3 separate regions of the Homo sapiens genome follow, and all the other regions are linked to region 2. Evidence: fine-mapped expression QTL. A gene starts in region 2. Each other region holds a variant in brackets. All regions are shown on one strand. Distances are between the middles of the regions.

Region 1 (6,430 bases), 90 kb before region 2:
GTTGAAATATATAAACAACTGGTGTTGAAATCTTAATCCAGTTTTAAAGAGAATAAAAACTTTGTAAGTATAGTAATTATAGTTAAAAACAGAATATAATTGTTATATTTCTAGAAAGAAAAGCTTAATCAATACTGATTAAAAACAATAATCTGTGTATAATAGACTGGCACAGAAAAATTTCAGGATATGTCTGTCCCTGGCTCCCCCAAAATGGAGAATGGCTGGAGAAGGGGGATGAGGAGGCAGTACATGTGGGATACTCTTTTTTTTTTTTTTTTTTTAGATGGAGTCTTGCTCTGTCGCCCAGGCTGGAATGCAGTGGCGTGCTCTCGGCTCACTGCAACCTCTGCCTCCCGGGTTCAAGCAGTTCCCTGCCTCAGCCTCCTGAGTAGCTGGGACTACAGGCGCCCACCACCATGCCCGGCTAATTTTTGTATTTTTAGTAGAGACAGGGTTCCACCATATTGTCCAGGCAGGTCTTGAACTCTGGACCTCGTGATCCACCTGCCTCGGCCTCCCAAAGTGCTGGGATTACAGGCGTGAGCCACCACGCCCAACCGACATCTTTCATATGAAGGGGTCAAGATATTCTGCTGCATTTCAAAATCAACAAACTGAGAAATAAGGTTTAATCAAGTCGTGTTGAAGAGACTATTAGAACTATAAACAGATTATCTTCTAAATTAACGGAAGTGGGGCAGGTAAGAAGCTAACAATAACAAGAACAAAACTCAAAACACATCCCATAAAGAAAAGATGGAAAACAAAGGAAACCATAATGAAGCACAAAATAAAGTAAGAAAAGCAAAAATAAGTGGGATAGACTCAACTATTCAAGGAAAAAGTCATTTCAGATTGAAGAAAAAATATCAAACCCAATTTCATTCTGTCCACAGTGAAGACAACATCTACGGGCTCCACCCATGCATCCAGAGCTTCCATATAGCTTTTTAGTTGTGTCATCAACAAAAAATAAGAGAAGCAAAATAGTTGAAAGTAAAACTTAGGAACATGCAAATGTAACAAAGAAATCAGAGTTTGAATTCCAGATAAAAATGGCTTCTTGAAACCCGCACCAGATTTTGTTTCTTCCCCAAATCCCACAGAAAAACGATAGGAAAGGCACTTTGAAAACCTAACCTACAAGGACAGAAAGAACAGGGAAGAAGAAGGCAATCAGACAAAGGTTTCGATGCTGGAAAGCAGACTTGAACCAGAGGCAACGAGCTGAGGCGGCCTCAGAAAGCCAAATCCTAAATCAGTAGTAGGAAAGCTGAGAATCAACCTCATCTTCCCCAGAAAATCCTCAAAAGGCTCAGGCACAGGTGCCACCTGGGAACTGGTGGCTAAAATAAGGGGGCTTGGTTGAAATTTGTTTCAGAAGAGAGTGAGTCCTAGATCCCTTCCTCACTCCACCCAGCTGAGTGAATGTCTCTCCTCCACTTGGGAAGAAATTAAACATTTATTCTCTAGAGAGGATAAAATACAGGCTCTTTGGGCTGAAGAATGCCAAGCACAGTTGAGAGCCTGAGTCTATGGTAAACACAGGGGAATTAAGTAAAAGTATGCAAACTGCATGCAGTATGTGAGACCCCTCCCCTGCCCTTCCCAGTGTCCTGCTTCTCCCCTGGACCCCCAGAGAGGGGGTCCTGGCAGCAAGGCCTTTACCCTCCAGCAGGAGACTGCATGAGTCCTCTCTGGGGAATCGGAGCAGCCCAGAGGAAAAGATCTAAAGATGTTGACACTTGGTGGGAGGGTTCTGCACAAATGGCCCAATTTTATCACCCCAATGATACCACCCTACAGTGAAGACTAAACCTGTGGGCTCTTTCCATGCACTCAGAGCTTCCAAATCGCTTTTTAGTCTCCCATTCTTAGACGTGAGCAAACAACCAAGGGTAATTCAACATCTAAGGGTAAAAAAAGACTCTGCTGAGAAAGAATAAGACCAAGACAAACAAAAATTCAATAGAAACTGGTTATGCAGAAAGGAAAAGGAAAAAAGCCTATCTCCCCATCCTCCTAACAAAATCAAATATGTCATTAACATTTTCAAGAGATAAAAAAACCATGAAATAAGATCAAGAAACTATAAAAGGAATATTCAGAAAACAAAAAGCTCTTGAATATTACAGAAATAAACAAACCCAAGAGCAGAAATTAGAATTCAATAAAAATGTTGGAAGAGAAAGTTGAGGAAATCTCCCAGAAAGTAGAGCCAAACAAAACAAAAAGCAGCAACTGACCACACACACACATACACACAAAATACAAGGGAAAAAAGATATTTTTACAACATTTAGAAGCCCAGTCCTGAAGATCCAATACCCAAATAACAGCAGTTTCAGAGAGAATAGAAAAAAGGGGAAAAAATCATTAACAAAATAATTCAAGAAAATGTCCCAGGACTGAAGGACACAGGTTTCAAGATTAATTTCTGGTACGGTGGAGTAAATCTGACCTATACCAAGGATATAATGAAATTTCACTGTGAAATTTCAGAACCCTGGAGACAAAAGGAAGAGCCTACAAACTTCCACAGAAAGAAAAAAGTCACGTATGAAGGCTCAGGATCAGATTGGCATTGGACTTCTTAGCAACACTGGAAATTCAAAATTCCACGGGAAAATCATTTCCAGCCTATAGTTTCTCACCCAGCCAATCTATCCAACAAGTATGAAGATAGAATAGACACTTTCAGATAGAATAGTAGGGCCCCCAAAATTTACCTCCCATACACTGTTTCTCAGGAAGTTACTGATAGATGTGTTCAACCAAAACAAGGTAGTAAACCAAGAAAAAGGAAGCCATGTGATATAGAAATAAAATATCGAATATGGGAGAGGGGTAAAGAGAATCTTCAGTGTAGTAGTGAAAGGCAATCCCAAAATGATTGTTGTGTACAGGCATAAAGGGTGACTTCTTCAATTTAGAACACATGTGTTTCCGGTGTAACAGTCCACTGCTTTTAAATCATCTTTTTAACTTGGGAAGCAACTAGAGGTTATGCTTTGTCAAATCAAGGGGGTATATAAAAGGAAGATGTGTAACTCAGGAAGTAGAGACTCCAACTCAAAAGAAAGCCAAGGGGAATTCCTCTGATTATAGTAAAGAAAAGCCCCTGATGATCAACTATGCAGTAAGCCTAGAAAAAAACCAGTCCAAACAGAAGAGGAATGGGAGTGACCAAAAAAAAAACAACAACCTGAAACTGACAGATTACACAATATGATGGACTTTGTGGGAAATTGTTCTGAAAGGCTATTATGAGATGTGGAAATAATTAACTAA[T/C]AGGTACAAAGAAAACTAGACAAGTGAAAAAGCAAGATGATTATTAACTTCAGGAAAATCAAAAAGAAAGGAAAGGAAAAACAAAAAAAAGCTAACGCCTTCCAGCTGAGTTAGATTCCTTAAAGCAGGTTTCCTGGAAAAACCACAAAATTGTATGCTTGTATCTCATTAGCCAGAACTTAGTGTTGTGGCTCCATATAGCTGTAAAGAAGACTGGAAAATGGGATCTTTTATTTTCAGACACCAAAGTACTCCTCTGAAAATTGATCTTTTGTTATTGAGGAGGAAAGTTAGAATAAATGTTGGGGTAGATAATTAGCTGTCTGTCACTGATGGTCACTTTCATCAAGAATACATTTCACAATGAACACATAGCTGACAGAAACCTTTATGCACTAAATAACATAGCACCAAAACACATAAAGCCAAAACTGTAGGAAACACAATAAAAATTAGTGGCACAAGATATTCAAATTATGTTAATATATTTAAAGACAGGGGAAAGGGGTGATTTTCTAAGAAGAGACCAATTGCACAAGAAAAGAGAGAAATTCGAATTGACCAAACACCCTGAACAAAATCAATCAAATTGTTAACAAGCTACCTCTGCCCCAAAGTGCCAGATCCAAAAAAACAGTTACTGCCTGAGTTTTAAAAACTCTCTCAGATATGGAGAAAGAAAGAAAATCTACGAAATTTTCACATCACTGATACTAAAGCCTAACAAAGCACAAGAATGTGGAAAAATTCTAATCCATATTATAGATGCATATTAATGCAAAAAAAAATGTAGCCAATACAATCCAACAGCATGTTAATTTCCTTGTGCTGCCAATATCATATTATGACAAACTTAGCTGCTTAAAGATACTCAAATTTGGACTGGGTGCGGTGGCTCACACCTGTAATCCCAGCACTTTGGGAGGCCGAGGTGGGTGGATCACAAAGTCAGGAGATCGAGACCATCCTGGCTAACACGGTGAAACCCCGTCTCTACTAAAAATACAAAAAATTAGCCAGGCGTGGTGGCAGGCACCTGTAGTCCCAGCTACTTGGGAGGCTGAGGCAGGAGAATGGCGTGAACCCGGGAGGCAGAGCTTACAGTGAGCCAAGATCGCGCCATGCACTCCAGCCTGGGAGACAGAGCGAGACTCTGTCTCAAAAAAAAAGATAATCAAATTTGGCTAGGTGCAGTAGCTCATGCCTGTAATCCAAGCACTTTGGGAGGCTGAGATGGGTGGATCACCTGAGGTCAGGAGTTCGAGACCAGCCTGGCCGACATGGTAAAACCCGTCTCTAATAAAAATACAAAAATTAGCCATACATGGTGGCACACACTTGTAATCCCAGCTACTCAGGAGGAGGAGGCAGGAGAATCACTTGAACTTGGGAGGCAGAGGTTGCAGTGAACAGAGATCATGCCACTGCACTCCAGCCTGGGCGACAGAGTGATACTCATCTCACAAAAAAAAAAAAAAAAAAAAAAAAAGAAAGAAAGAAAAGAAAAAAAGATACTCAAATTTATTATCTCCCAGTTTCTGTAGGTCAGAAATCTGGTATGGGTCTAACTGGGCTTAGGTCAAGGTATCAGCCAGAGCTGTAGTTCTCACCTGGGGCTCACTGTTGGTTGAATTCATTTCTTCTCACATTTTCCACGGCCCCCATCTTTGAGCCACCAATGCTGTGTCATGCTTAGAAATCTCTCTGACTTCCTCTTCTGCCCTCAGTCAGGAGGAAACTCTGCTTTTAAGGGTTTGTGTGATTATTCTGGGCCCACCCAGATAGTCCAGGATGACCTTTCTATTTTAAGGTGAACTGATTAGTAATCTTAAGTATATCTGCAAAGTCCCTTTTGTCATGTAATGTAATATTCAGACGCATGACAGCAGGGGGCAAAGGTCCTAAGGGTCAAAATTCTATCTGCCACAAGCAGTAGAATAATATTCCATGAACGAACAATATGCCATGACCAAACCAGTTACTATAGGAACAAAAGACTGGCTTACTAATATTAACATAATTTATAATACCAATGTGTCAAAAAGGAAAAACAATTTTAAAGGATGCTGAAAAGCTCTTGATAAACATTAACTAGAGATTTTAAATCACGGAGCTATACTTCTTTTTTTTTTTTTGAGACGGAGTCTCACTCTGTCGCTCAGGCTGGAGCGCAGTGGCGTGATCTCAGCTCACTGCAAACTCCGCCTCCTGGGTTCACACCATTCTCCTGCCTCAGACTCCCAAGTAGCTGGGACTACAGGCGGCCGCCACCACGTCCAGCTAATTTTTTGTATTTTTTAGTAGAGACGGGTTTCACCATGTTAGCCAGGATGGTCTCGATCTCCTGACCTCATGATCCACCCACCTCGGCCTCCCAAAGTGCTGGGATTACAGGCGTGAGCCACTGTGCCCGGCCAACTTCTTTAACTTCATACAAATTGTATGCACTTCAAACCAAAAGCCAGTAGCACCTTAATGTCAGCAGTACCAGGACAGCCCTTATGGTCAGGAAAAACCACCGTGTCGATCATGACACCCTGTTCTGAAAGTACCGCCCAACAAGAGTAAAATGAAAAGTATAAATATTGAAAAGGAAGAGGCAAAAGGATGAGTATTTGTAGATGACATGGTCATCTACCTGTAAAACCCAAGAGAATCAACTGAAAAACTATCCAAAACAGTAAGAGGGTTTGAGAAGGTGGCTGGGGTATAAAATAAGTAAGCCAAAATCAATGTCTTTTGTATACTCTTGAAAAACCCCCTTAGAAAATATGGAATGAAAATATCTTATTATAATATCAGTAAGAAGAACAAGAGATAATATACCTAGAAATAAAATAAAAAATGCGAGACCCAAGGAAGTGTTGATATTTTCACTAGAAGCAAAGACAGAATATATCCATGTCAAACTGTAACGGATTGTATTAGTCCGTTTCACACTGCTATAAACAACTACTTGAGACTGGGTAATTTATAAAGGAAAGAGGTTTAATTGATTCACAGTTCCACATGGCTGGGGAGGCCTCAGGAAACTTACAGTCATGGCAAAAGGTAAAGGGGAAGCAAGGCACATCTTACATGGCAGCAGGAGAGAGACAGAGAGAGAGCAAAGGGGGAGGTGCCACACTTTAAAACC
Region 2 (6,430 bases):
TCATGAAGGGGATGGGATCTTCGGGCTGGTGGATCAGGAGTTGCTCCAGCATGTTCTGTGGGTGCAGGGCAGACACCCAGGTGGTTAATACCTGCAAGGGCACCTGGTCACCACAGATACCAGCTATGGGGCCTGCTCTCTCCACTGCACCCCACCAAACATGCCTTCAACCTGGGACCCAGCCACCGCCCCAGCTGGCATCTGCTTGGGTCCCCATGAGCAGAGGCATGAGGGGGGCCACGTGGTGCTGCTGCGGAGGCACCTATGGGGAGGCAGAAGTGGAGGAGTCTCGCCCCTGATTCAGAGCAGGCAGTCCAGGGCTCTCTCCCCTGGGGCCCTTTGAGCTTCCCAGACCAGCCTTCTCCAAGTTCTCAAGCATCACCATTCCCCTCAGAGCCTTAGCAGATGCTGTTCCCTCAGCTTGGAAGCTTCTGCCTTGTCCTCATCCTGGCTAACTTCTGCTCAGTCTCAGATCTCAATGGGAACATACCTTCCTGAGTATGTGCACTACGTAAATATGTCAGATGCTCCTGCACCTGCCTGCGGGCATCGCCCTGTTCCACGCCTCACCCTGTCCCTACTCACCAGGCCACCATCCCCCCGGCAGGCCATGGGTTCTGTGGGCCTCCTTGTCTGCCTAGAGCCCTTGGCACCCCAATACCTGGCAGTCATAGCAGATGCCCAGCGCAGATGTTTGCTGGGGAACATGACCGTCACCACTAACTGTGTCTCTCCAGAATGGAACAGAATGTTACCAGCCAGATTTCTAAATAGTCCTGGGATATTCTGGCCATTTCATCCAATCAGGCAAGCATATCAAGAGAAAGCAGCTTCTGGGGTTGCAGAACCCTAGGCAGAGAAATGAGGAGGAGCTCATAGCAGCTGTGCTGCTGCAATAAGGGGTATCCTTGAGCCCCAGGGACAAGGAGGGAGGGGCTGTAGCCCTCTTGGAGTGAAGGGAGTGTGGGGCAGGGAAAGAGCACCGAGCCATGAGAAGTCTTGGTTCCAGCCCCACTGTATCTCATCAGCAAGTCCCTTCCCTTCTCTGGGCCTCAGCTTCTCTGCCTGTTCAGTAGCACAGCTGGAGTGAATTCATGTTTGTATGTCACTGGTGCGATGATGGAATGAGATGATTTTAGATGGTTCACACATAAATATTTTACATTTCATGTTTAAATCATTGTGTATTTAACGTGTATTAGAAATATAAGTACATCAAATCAATAATTTCAAGGATATCACTTAGGATGAGGCAAAAGCGGCTATTTAATTTTTTAAAAGGTGAGTTGATTTAAACAAGTGATTAGTTTAAATGGAGGTGCAGTAGCGGTTATGCAAATCTGTACATGTGATACAACTGCACAGAACTGTATGCACAACAAAAACATCAATGCAGGTAAAAATGGAGGAAATCCAAACAAGGCCTACAGTTCAGGTAATCCTATTGTACCAATGCCAGTTTCCTGGTTTTGACAATGTGCTACAGTTATGTTAGATGTTATCACGGGGGCAATGTGGGAGGGGAGACCAGAAATCCATACTATTTTTTAACTTCCTGTGAATCTAACATTATTTTAAAATCAAAAGTATAAAAAATGGAAATGGTCAAAAACATGGAGGGAATCCACAGATGACTAAGGACTGGAAATACTGGACTGAAAGCTTTCTTGTTGGGAGGCCGAGGCAGAAGGACTGTTTGAGCCCAGGAGTTCAAGACCAGTCCGGGCAACATAGCAAGACCTCGTCTGTACTAAAATTAAAAAAAAAACATTAGCCAGGTATGGTGGCCTGCACCTGTAGTCTCGGCTACTCTGGAGGGACTAAGGCAGAAGGATTGCTTGAGCCCAGGAGTTCAAGGCTGCAGTAAGCCATGATTGTATCACTGCACTCCAGCCTGGGCAGCAGTGCAAGACCCTGTTTCAAAATCAATAAAAGCTTTCCTGGGCAATTCCTCCAACAATCAATGTGGAAAACACACCAGGTTCTCTAGAGCAGACAACAGGGCTCCAGATGATCCCCCATCCTGCCCTGACCTGCTGACTTCTAACCCAGCTAGCTATTTGATTTGTGATTGGCCACTCAAGCAGTTTTAGGAATCTCTTGCTCTCCCTCTATCAGTTAACACTTTCCGAGGGAAATGTGTTTGATGGAGGTGCAGACACGGGTTTCTTCGTCTGGGCTCAGCTGTCTAGTGTGCAGGGCAGAACCTCAAATGACCACAGACACCACTATGCCCTCCATGCCATGCCCCTGGGGATGGGGTGTACCCTGGGAAGCAGACAAATGATCTGAAAACTGAGCTCCAGCTTCCCCTTGCCTCTCAGAACCTTTGAGTGGCTGAGAGTTCTTCCCCTCCAGCTCCTGAAAGCCTTGACCTCCACCACGTGCAAAAGGGAAAACTGGGGCCCTGGCGGGGACGGGGCCTCGCCCAAAGTCACACGGTGAGCTGGGGGCCCAGTCAGGCCTGGAGCCAGAATGAGAGCTTCGGAGCTGCCGGGGACGTCTGGCCCTGAGGAGGAGGGACCAAGGTGGGAGATGCTGCTGTCCCAGAGGCGGCCCTCTCTGAGGATGGAGATGCCAGCTTGAACTCGGACAATGCCCACCTCAGAAACCTGGGCCGAGAGGCTCCCCACAAATTCGACAGATGGTAATTGTCAGCGCCGGGAGAGCCCCTGGGAGACCACCTCTTGCAACCTGGCATTTCACAGGTGGGGAAACCGAGAAAAGGAAAGGACTGGTTCCAGACCATAAGGCCCGCTGGCGGCACAGCCAGGACCAAATCCCGGCTCGAGTGGCCCCCTTCCTCCCCCTGGGTCCGCCTGAGGCAAACCCGGGCAGGACCAGGAGCGTCCCCAGCTCGAGGGCCCCCTCGGGGTCACGGCGACACACGAATCGTACATCCCGAGTTGGGCTGCTTCGTGGGCGCGCGACTCGGCCCCAGCTGCGGGTCCCGGCCGCGCACCCGACGTCGCAGTGGAGGCTCCCGAGCCGCCGCCAGCGTCGCGACGGGCAGGGGTGTCCGGTCACCTGCATCAACTCGAAGATGTGGTTCTCCTCCCCGTACTGGGGCATCTCGGGGGGGATACGGTGCGGGGCGATAGTGGCGTCCATGTAGCCGTCTCGGCTCGCCGCTCCCTAGTAACCGCGTCGCTAGGGCCGCCGCGCCGACTGCGTCATCAGCACGCGCCGCGGCCCCGCCCTGCAGGCTCCGCGCCGGGCCCAGATACCCGATCCTCGGTCGCGCGGGTCGCCCCCGCCCCGACCTCCCCGGCTGACGCGCTCTGCGGCTCGGGCAAGTTCTTTCCCCAACCCCGGCCTCGCTTTTCCCATTTGCGCATCTTAGCGGGGGACACCCTCAGGTGGCTTCCAGCTGGGCCTCCTCGTATCTGAGACCCCCGACGAAACCCAGAAGGGGCAAGTCGGCCCTCCGAGGGGACGGGAGGCAGAACCTGCTTCTGGTTCTGTCAGTGCTCCCCGGCCCGGCTCCCTGTGCCTCAGTTTACCCATCTTTAAAACAGACGCGGGAATAAATGTGGGGGAGGGTGTTTGAAGGGGGAGGGGCGTCCATGAGATGGGCCGGAGGTTCGAGGATCGGGTGGAAATCCTCAGCCCAACTCCTAGAGTCGAGCCCCGGTAGACCCCTCCCAGCTCCCCGGCTCTGGCCAAGCCGCCAAGTGACCCGATTGCTATGGCACCGGCGGTAACAATCACGCCCGCGGCCCCGCCCCTTCTCGCCCGACGTCCCCACCCACCCTCGCCTCCCAAGTCCTGGAACGGGCCTCCCCACCCTCCGGGGCACCGACACTCACGGAGTCACTCCAACTTCTCTGGGTGCTCCGTGGAGCGAAGAGCGCTCTAGGACAAGCAAGGGTAAACAGGGATGAGTGTGGGTGGGCCCACTCGGACCCCACCCCGGCCTCTGGGTCAGAAACTGGAAGCTGGGGTGGAGGATGGAAAGATGGAGGGGTCCGGAGGATGGAGGGGCCTGCACAGCTGTCTCGGGGTGGGGGCGAGGGGAAGGTTCGCGCTGGAGACGGAGCTTTTTAAGTCGTATGAATTCCCAGTGGTACGGGGCAGCTTGATATTTTATTAGTCGCAACACTGAATTGGGATCTCTAGCTCTTGTCTGTTGCCGTTAATCGTAGGAGCTGTAAGAGTTTGTTGAACTCTTTGTGCTCTCGGCAAAATTCTGTTGTCTCTGTACCTTATGGAGAGGGAAAATGGCACAGTCAATGCAGACAGCCCCAGCTTCAAGTTCTGGCTCCGCTTCTTACTGTGTGAGCTTGGCAAACTCTCTGCTTGCTCCGTGCCTCACTTTCCTGCCCTGTGAAGAGGGAACTGCTGAAGGATTTCAGGAGCTAATGTATTGGAGAGTAATTGGCATGCAGTAAGCACACAATATATGGGGCTACTATTAGTAGTAGTATCTCATTTAATCGTTCCAACAATCCTGTGAAATAGGCACCTTCATTCCCATTTTACAGATGAGAAGTTGGAGGATTAGAACAATGAGGAGTGGTTGGCTGGGTAACTTTGGGTGAGTCACTTCCCCTTTCTGGGCTTCTTTTCTCATCAGTTGTTGATCATACAGCCTTAGAACCAGAAGGCCTCTTGAAGAAGAGGCTAATCCAAACTCTCTCATTTGACAGATGGATAAACTGAGGCCCAGAAAAGGGGGAAATCTTGGCTAGGGCCACTGGTTAGATTGGGCAGAGCCAGGGCATGAACTCTGCATCCAGGCTCCAGCTAAAGCCCTTTTCTACCAGCCATCAGCCCAGAGACATGCCCTCCCAACGTAAAAGCCAGCACTGTTGCCTCTTCCCCTCCAAACCGCTTCCTCAAAGTGTGTACACCTTGGTAGGCTTGTCAAACCCAACTGTAAAGATAGCTGGGGAAGAAAAGGAAGCTGCCTCCCCCTGAGCAAAGAACACAACAGCCATGCCTGCCATTTGCACTGGAGAGGTTTGTTTTGCTTCCTGGACATTTCTGAAATGACTTGCCTTTCTCCTCATTTATTTTAAGCCCTAGGCGCTTTTCCTACCATGATTCAATCTTCTTTAGCAGCCTGGAAAAATACAAATCAATTAAAGCCTAAAACCTATGGGTAATCATTTTTTTCCTCCCTCCTCCCCCAGATCGAGAAGTGCCCGTCCCCTGTGCCCTTCATCCACACTAATTTGGCTGCAGTGGCTCTCGTTCAAGGGACGATCACTTCGGATAGCTTATTACAGCTCCTCTCATGACATTCCTGGCGTGCATGTCACAAGTTGCTAGGATCAAGAACAGAGTCAGTTCCTCTCAACCACTACCAACCACAGCTCCCACCATGATGAGGGAAAAGCCAGGCCGAAAGGGCACACGCCCTTTCTCCCTGGAACTCCACCTATGTGCTCTCTCTCACTTTTCTGGAGCTTCACCTTTGAGTCATTTGTAAGCCCTGGGCCAACATTAGGGCAAGGCAAGTGATGCACCCTCAGCACAAAACTTAAGGGAGTGCCGGCAATTCAATCATTGAGGTGGATGTTTTTCACGTTTTAATGCAATATATTTTAAAAATCAAAAATAATGCTGCCTAAAATCCATTTAGAATAACATGTCAAAAATTTAAGTAAAGGTAGGCTCAGTGTTACTGATTTCTCCTTTTGCCTCAGGCCTCAGTATGGCAAGGTGCAGCTATCTTTTTTTTTTTTTTTTTTGAGATGGAGTCTTGCTCTGTCGCCCAGGCTGGAGTGCAGTGGCGCCATCTCGGCTCACTGCAAGCTCCGCCTCCCAGGTTCACGCCATTCTCCTGCCTCAGCCTCCCGAGTAGCTGGGACTACAGGCGCCCGCCACCGTGCCCGGCTAACTTTTTTTGTATTTTTATTACAGACAGGGTTTCACCGTGTTGGCCAGGATGGTCTCAATCTCCTGACTTCGTGATCCACCCACCTCGGCCTCCCAAAGTGCTGGGATTACAGGCGTGAGCTACCGCGCCCAGCCAGCAATCTTTTCTTTACAAATTCTGATGTTGCCAGCTCATGCTTCTAATCCCAGCACATTGGGAGGCTGAGGTGGGAGGATCGCTGGAGCCCAGGAGTTCGAGACCAGCCTGAGCAACATAGGGAGACCCCATCTCTACAAAAAAAAAGAAAAAAAAAAAAGAAAAAAAAGAAGAAAAAAAAAAAAAGAAAAAAGGTAGTCAGGCATGGTGGCACATACCTGAGGTCCCAGCTACTCAAGAGGCTGAGGCGGGAGGATCACTTGAGCCCAGGAGGTCAAGATTGCAGTGAGTCGTGATCACAGCACCACACTCCAGCCTGGGTGAAAGAGCAAGACCCATTCTTTAAAAAACGTTTTTGGGGCTGGGTACAGTGGCTCATGCCTATCATCCCAGCACTTTCGGAGGCTGAGAAAGGGAGATCACTTGAGGCCAGGAGTTCAAGACCAGCCT
Region 3 (6,430 bases), 60 kb before region 2:
CAGTGCTGCCTGCTGAGGGAAAAAAAAAAGGTCACTGAAAAAAGCATAAAAGGGTTTTTCTGTGTGTGGGTATGTGTCCAAGTAAAAGTAAATATCAAAAAGGAGCCGGGAAATAAATAAAAGAGAGAGGTGGAATGAAAAGGAATGCATTTGGCAAAGAACACATTAAAAATGGACGGCGTGGGGAAGACACTAACGAGGATGTTGCCCACAGAGGAGCCCTGCAGGGCCTCGCTGCACCTGGAATTGCTGCGCAGAACTCGGCGCCCTCCAGGGTGCTGCGGAGGATCAGCGTTCTGGCCGGGGGCTGCTCATCTCTGGGCGATGTGCCTCAAGTGCGTCCACATTTGCACCCTTGTTACACAGCAGAGGGGGTGCAGTGTGTTGCTTCCACAGCCCTTCCAGCTGGCAGGGCATCTCCATGGGATGGTGGGGCCACACAATACGATAGATTCATATTCCAAGTGGGCTGACTCATCATTAAAGGGCACCATGTGGCTGTAATCCCAGCTTTTTGGCTGAGGCGGGCAGATCACTTAAGATCAGGAGTTCAAGACCAGCCTGGCCAACATGGTGAAAATCCGTTTCTACTAAAAATACAAAAATTAGCCAGGTGGGTGGCATATACCTGTAATCCCAGCTACTGGGGAGGCTGAGGCAGGAGAATCACTTGAACCTGGGAGGTGGAGGTTGCAGCGAGCCAAGATCGCGTCACTGCGCTCCAGTCTGGGCAACAGAGCAAGACTCCGTTTCAAAAAAAAAAAGAAAAAGAAAAAGAAAAAAAGGTACCACGCTGCAGTCACCTGGCCAGTGGCGGCTGCCCCGCTCTGGACACCTGCTCGCCCTGGGCAGGAACCTGCCTCTGGCCCCACTGTGTCTCGAGCCCTGAGCTAGGGCCGGCACAAAGGAGGTGCTGGGCAACAAGCATGAGTGAATAAACACAGGCTACCTCCTCCTTGGCTGTGAAAGTCCTTCCTAGCCAAAGCCAGAAGATTTAAACTATATTTTCATGAATTGTTCACTGCACGCTTTTGGCTTTCTTACCTTTAGGGCTAAGAAGTTTTCTGCCTATACTAAGGAGACCAAAAAACATCCTAAAGTTAACTGGATAGCATGAATGTTTAACAAAATTACCATCACCAGGGATTCATTCCTCAATAATGATATGCTTAATTCACTATGTAAATGACAGCAGTTGTCATTTAATTTAATCCAATGTGCTTGGCAGCCTCACCAGCAAAGGACATATAAGTGAGAATAAAGGCTGCTGGGAGCTAGGCGCAGTGGCTCATGCCTGTAATCCCAGGACTTTGGGAGGCCAAGGCGGGAGGATCATTTGAGGTCAGGAGCTTGAAACCAGCCTGGCCAATATGGTGAAACTCCGTCTCTACTAAAAATACAAAAATTAGCCCAGTGTGGTGGTGGAAGCCTGTAATCCCAGCTACTTGGGAGGCTGAGGCAGGAGAATTGCTTGAGCCCAGGAGGCGGAGGTTGTAGTGAGCAGAGATTGGCACCACTACACTCCAGCCTGGGTGACAGAGGGAGACTTTGTCTCAAAAAAAAAAAAAGAAAAAGAAAGAAAAGAAAAAAAAAGCTGCTGAGAACTGAGACAATTCTGTGTGCCAAGCACTGTGCTAAGTGTGCTTTGTTTTATTTGGTCCTCACAATAACCTGCTGTTTCTTAGGTAAAGACACTGAGGCTCAAAGAGATGAAATAACCTGCTTTAGGTCACAGAGCCATTAAGGGGCAGAGCTGGGGTCCAAACCCAGGTCTGCGTGACATCAAACCCATGCTTAGCTTCCAGTTCTGGCCATGAAGGAGTAACAGGTATCATATTTAACTTCTCTTATAGAAAGCTGTGAAACTGAACAAAATCTATGAAGCAATTCTTTAGAGTCATTGGACAACAGAGAGACAGGTCTGTAATCCTTGAGAGGCAGGAAACATACAAAACGAGCCCCATAGTCATCCTGGATTTCTACCTATGGGCACTTCTCAAATCATGGCACAGGAGAAGTGGAGCCCAAACAGATCAGCAGTCTCACTGGGTGGAAGCAACAAAGACTGGAGCTCTGAGACGGCCAGAATTTGTAGAACAGGGTAAGGGAGAGGAGGCAGCTGTGCACAGAAGGAGTTCCAGAAATCTCATAGGGGTTCACTGAGCCTTTGGCCAATATGAAGCTGCACATGTGCAGGGTGAGACTCCAGAGGCCTGGTAGAGAAAAGCTACTGGGAAGCTGTGAACTGAATGGAAATTCACACAGGGCTGGGAGATGCTGGCATTCTGACAACCAAAGTGACAGACCCTGCTGAACACCCCGGACATTCAGCTGAGATTCCAGAAAGGGCAGACCTTAGCTGCAGGGATACTCTAGCCCTAGAGTAAGAACACTCTACTCCCACTTAACAAAGCCTGAAAATAAGCTTCAGTAGGATGGAGTTAATCCTCCAAACTCAATACTCTTAAAGCAGAATGGTGACACAATCCAGACCTTCAAAAATGTGAGAAACACAATGTCTAGCATTTAATCAAAAGCTCCTTGACATGCAAAAAAGCAGGAAAATGTGACTCCTATGAGGAGAGAAAACAGGCCAGAGAATCAGATCGGGGATGACACACATGTCAGAATCAGCACACCAGGACTTTAAAACAGCTATTATGAGTACACTTAAAACCTTAAAGGAAAAGATAGTTAAAATGAGTGAACAGATGGAGAATCTCAGCAGAGAAAGGAAAACTGTGAAAAAGAACCAGATGGAAATTCTGGACCTGGAAAATACAGTATCTTAAATGAAACAAATCACTAGGTGTGCTGCAATCAGTGAATTTAAAGACAGGATAAAAGAGGCAATAGGAAGTAGCCAAACTGCAGCAAAGAGGGGGATGGGAAAGGACCGGAAGAAAAGAACCAAATCTAAGAGACCTAGAGGACAATACCAGACAGTCTAACATATGTGGAACTGTAGTTCCAGAAAGAAGAGAGGCAGGCAGAAAAAAGATTTCAGAAGATAATGACAGGAGAACTTCAAAATTTGATTAAAAATTTCAGCCCACACACCCAAGAATCTCTGAGATCCAAGCAGAACAAACACAAAGTAAGTCACACTTCGATACATCGTAGTCAAATTGCTGAAAGCTAAAGAGAAAATATTAACAGCAGCTGAGGGCAGGGGGAGTGCTTCACATGCAGGGCAACAATGGTAAAAATAACCTCTGAGATTTCATCAGAAGAAGTGCAAGCCGGAAGACAATAGAATGACATCTTTAAAGTGTTAAGAGAAAGAAACTGTCAACATAGATTTCTATATGCAGCCAAAACATCCTTCAAAAATGAAGATGAAATCATATCATTTTCAGGCTATGAAAGCTGAGAAAATTTGTCACCAGCACACTTTCACTACAAGAGCTGTTAAAGGAAGTTCTTCAGGCTGAGAGGAAATGATACCAGATGGAAACCTGGATCTAAACCAAGGAGTGAAGAGTACTGATAGGTGGGTACATATAAAAGTCTCTCCCCCCTTATATCTTCACTTCTTTAAAAGATGAATGACTATTTAAAACAAAAATAATTACAATATATTGTAGGGTTTATAACATACGCAGAAGTAAAATGTATGTCAACTGTAAAGAAGTAAGGTAAATGGAAAAATCTACTGCTGCGAGGCTCTGATATCATACATGGTGAGGTGTAACATTCACTCAAAATAGGCTGGGACAAGCAAAAGATGCATATTTAATCCCTAGAGCAACCACTAACAAAATAAAGCAAAGAGATATGGCTAAAAAGGAAATAGAAGAAAGAAAATGGATTACTAAAAAATACTTGGTTAATCCAAAAGGTGGCAGGAAAGGAGGAACAAAGAACAGATGACACAAGTAGAAAACAAAACAAAACAAAAAAACAGGCCAGGCTTGAGGGCTCATGCCTGTAACTTCAGTGGGAGGCCGAGG[C/T]GGGAGGTTCACTTGAGCCCAGGAGTTTGAGGGTGCAACGAGCTATGATTGCACCACTGTACTCCAGCCAGGGCAACAGAGCAAGACCCCGTCTCTTAAAAAAAAAAAAGTGAGACCCAACTATATGCTGTTTACAAGACACATAGTTAGACTATAAGACACAGATAGTTTAAAAGAAAAAGAATAGAAGGTATATCATACAGACACAAATCATAAGAAAGTTAGAGAAACTTCATTAACATCAGACAAAGTGGACTTCAAGAAAATGAGTATTGCTAGAGAGGAAAAGCAACATTTCCTAGCAATAAAAGGGTCATTTCACCAATAACATATAACTATCCTTACTGTATACAGTCAGCCCTCCATATCCATAGTTTCTACACTCATGGATTCAACCAACCACAGATTGAAAATATCTGGGGTAAAAATTACGTCTGCACTGAACATGTAGTCTTTTTTCCTTGTCAGTATTCCCTAAACAATACAGTATAACAACTGTTGCATAGCATTTACATTATATTAGGTATTATAAGTAATCTAGAGATGATTTAAAGTGTATAGGAGAATGTATGTAGGTTATATGCAAATACTACGCCATTTTGTATCAGAGACTGGAACATCCTCGGATTTCAGTATCCAAGGGAGGTCCTAGAACCAATCCCCCATGGATACTGAGGTGTGACAGTATGCACTTAATGACAAATTACATGAAGCAAAAACTTGCAGAGAATAGACAAATCCACAATTCAGAGTTGGGAGATTTTTTAAATGTTGGGCTGGATGATTGTAAAAAATTAAAAATAAAAGAGTTGGGAGAGTTTAACACACCTCTCTCAATAACTGACATAATAAGTAGAGTGAGAATCATTAAGGACATAGACGAATTTCAAAATTTGATTAAAAATTTCAAACATCTTATCCTAATCGATATTATAGAACACTATAACCAACAATGCAGAATACCTATTTTTTTAAGTACACTTGGAATTCACCAGTATAGACCATATATGCAAATTTCAAAGGATCAAAATCACATAGGGTATGTTCTTTTACCACAATAGAATTAAATTAGAAATCAAGACTATAAAGCAATCAGGAAAATCCCCAAATATGTGGGAATTAAGCAAGGTGTATTCTAAATAGTACACAAGTCAAAAAAGAAACCAGAGGCTGAGGTGGGAGGATTGCTTCAGGCCAAGAATTTGAGACCAGACTGGGCAACATAGAGAGATTCCCGTCTTTACAAAAAAAAATTAGCTGAGCATGGTGGCATACACCTGTAGTCCCAGCTACTTGGGAGGCTGAGGCGGGAGGATCACTTGAGGAGTTGGAGGCTGCAGTGAGCCATGACTGCACCACTGCATTCCAGCCTGGGTGACAGAGTAAGACCCGAAAAAAAAAAAAAAAAAAAGACAAAGGGAAGGAAGGAAGGAAGGAAGGAAAGAATTCATGCTCACTGTAAAAAAAAAAAAAAATCTGAATTGTATAATCCACAGCTCTGCCGAGATAAGCAGTTTGGTGTATGGATATTTCTTCATGCTTTTTCTGAGCATAAACTAACATGCTTTTTTGAACAAAAATGAGGTCACCCCCTGGATACTGCTGAGCAAATTGTTTTCTGCCCCTCCCTTATTTAGCCATGTATCACTGACATCAAATCACTTTACAGGTTTATTTTTAACAGCTGCCTCGCAATCCATTACATGGGTTTATCACAACTTATTTCACAAACCTGCTTATTAACAGAGTTAGAGGTTGCCTCTGTTTCTCATTATGCTTCTGCCACATCTCTCCTTACATATCTGAGTGTTGGAGCAGAATAAACTCCTAGGAGTTAAATCCCAGGGTCACAGGGTTTGCGCAGTTAGTGCTTTAACCAACAGTGGCTTTCGCCTTTCAGAAAGTCGTGTCCGTATATACTCCCATCATCCTAAGTGAGGTCTTCTGATGAACTTTGTGGGAGTGAGTGTGGGGGCTGTCTGTTTTTTTGTTGGTTTGGAGATATTTTCCTTTGGCTGAGAGATTCACAGATGTGAAGATTAGAACCAGGCGAGCGGATGGCCGCAGCGGAGCAGACAGCACCTGGAGCTCTGGGTTCAGACACGCATTTGCAGAGAGATCTCAAGGCTACCTGCCTTAGGTCTCTTAAATGGGTTTACTTAAATCTCATGACATCTTGTATTTATCAAGAACACCTTTGAGAAATGTGAACTTTCTGAGATAGTCTCCAAATGCTTAATTATCTAAAAGAGCCCCATCATGGCTCTTAGGTAACAAGCAAAAACCATGATGAGCTTTTCTATTTTCATTTTTGGAAAAATCTAGGCAGGTAATTTCATCTCTTCATGGCTGGTGTGCTGAACGCAATTTGAATTAAAAAAAAAAAACCTTTTATTGAATGAGAGTGTCTGCATCATAAAACAGAGCACCGAGACAATTATTTCCATAAAGCCCTGCACTGCATTAAAGTATTGCTG

Direction of the effects. Positions count from the first base shown, and alleles are read on the strand shown. Sizes are in standard deviations (SD) of each study's normalised expression. Not every link is listed here.
As copies of C replace T in region 1, the expression in monocytes after LPS of the gene that starts at base 3,140 in region 2 goes down (moderate effect, 0.65 SD a copy in Quach 2016).

What was found.
Region 1: its variant is fine-mapped to the expression of AK8 in monocytes after LPS (Quach 2016, PIP 0.95).
Region 3: its variant is fine-mapped to the expression of AK8 in anterior cingulate cortex (GTEx, PIP above 0.99). The same link has a PIP of 0.9 or more in amygdala, spinal cord and substantia nigra.

Annotation. Positions count from the first base shown.
Region 1 is chr9:132,784,840-132,791,269 of GRCh38, forward strand. The region is part of intron 11 of AK8 (adenylate kinase 8); the gene reads right to left. Among named protein-coding and RNA genes, the nearest start is that of AK8, 90 kb to the right of the region's middle. The variant T/C (reference allele first, on the strand shown) is at 3,295.
Region 2 is chr9:132,875,145-132,881,574 of GRCh38, forward strand. It overlaps AK8 (adenylate kinase 8), which reads right to left and starts at 3,140. Exons shown (of 13, transcript NM_152572.3): 1 at 3,028-3,140; 2 at 1-55. The coding sequence starts at 3,111. SPACA9 (sperm acrosome associated 9) reads left to right here and starts at 3,754. Exons shown (of 4, transcript NM_001316897.2): 1 at 3,754-3,870.
Region 3 is chr9:132,814,800-132,821,229 of GRCh38, forward strand. All of the region lies in intron 9 of AK8 (adenylate kinase 8), which reads right to left. Among named protein-coding and RNA genes, the nearest start is that of AK8, 60 kb to the right of the region's middle. The variant C/T (reference allele first, on the strand shown) is at 3,954.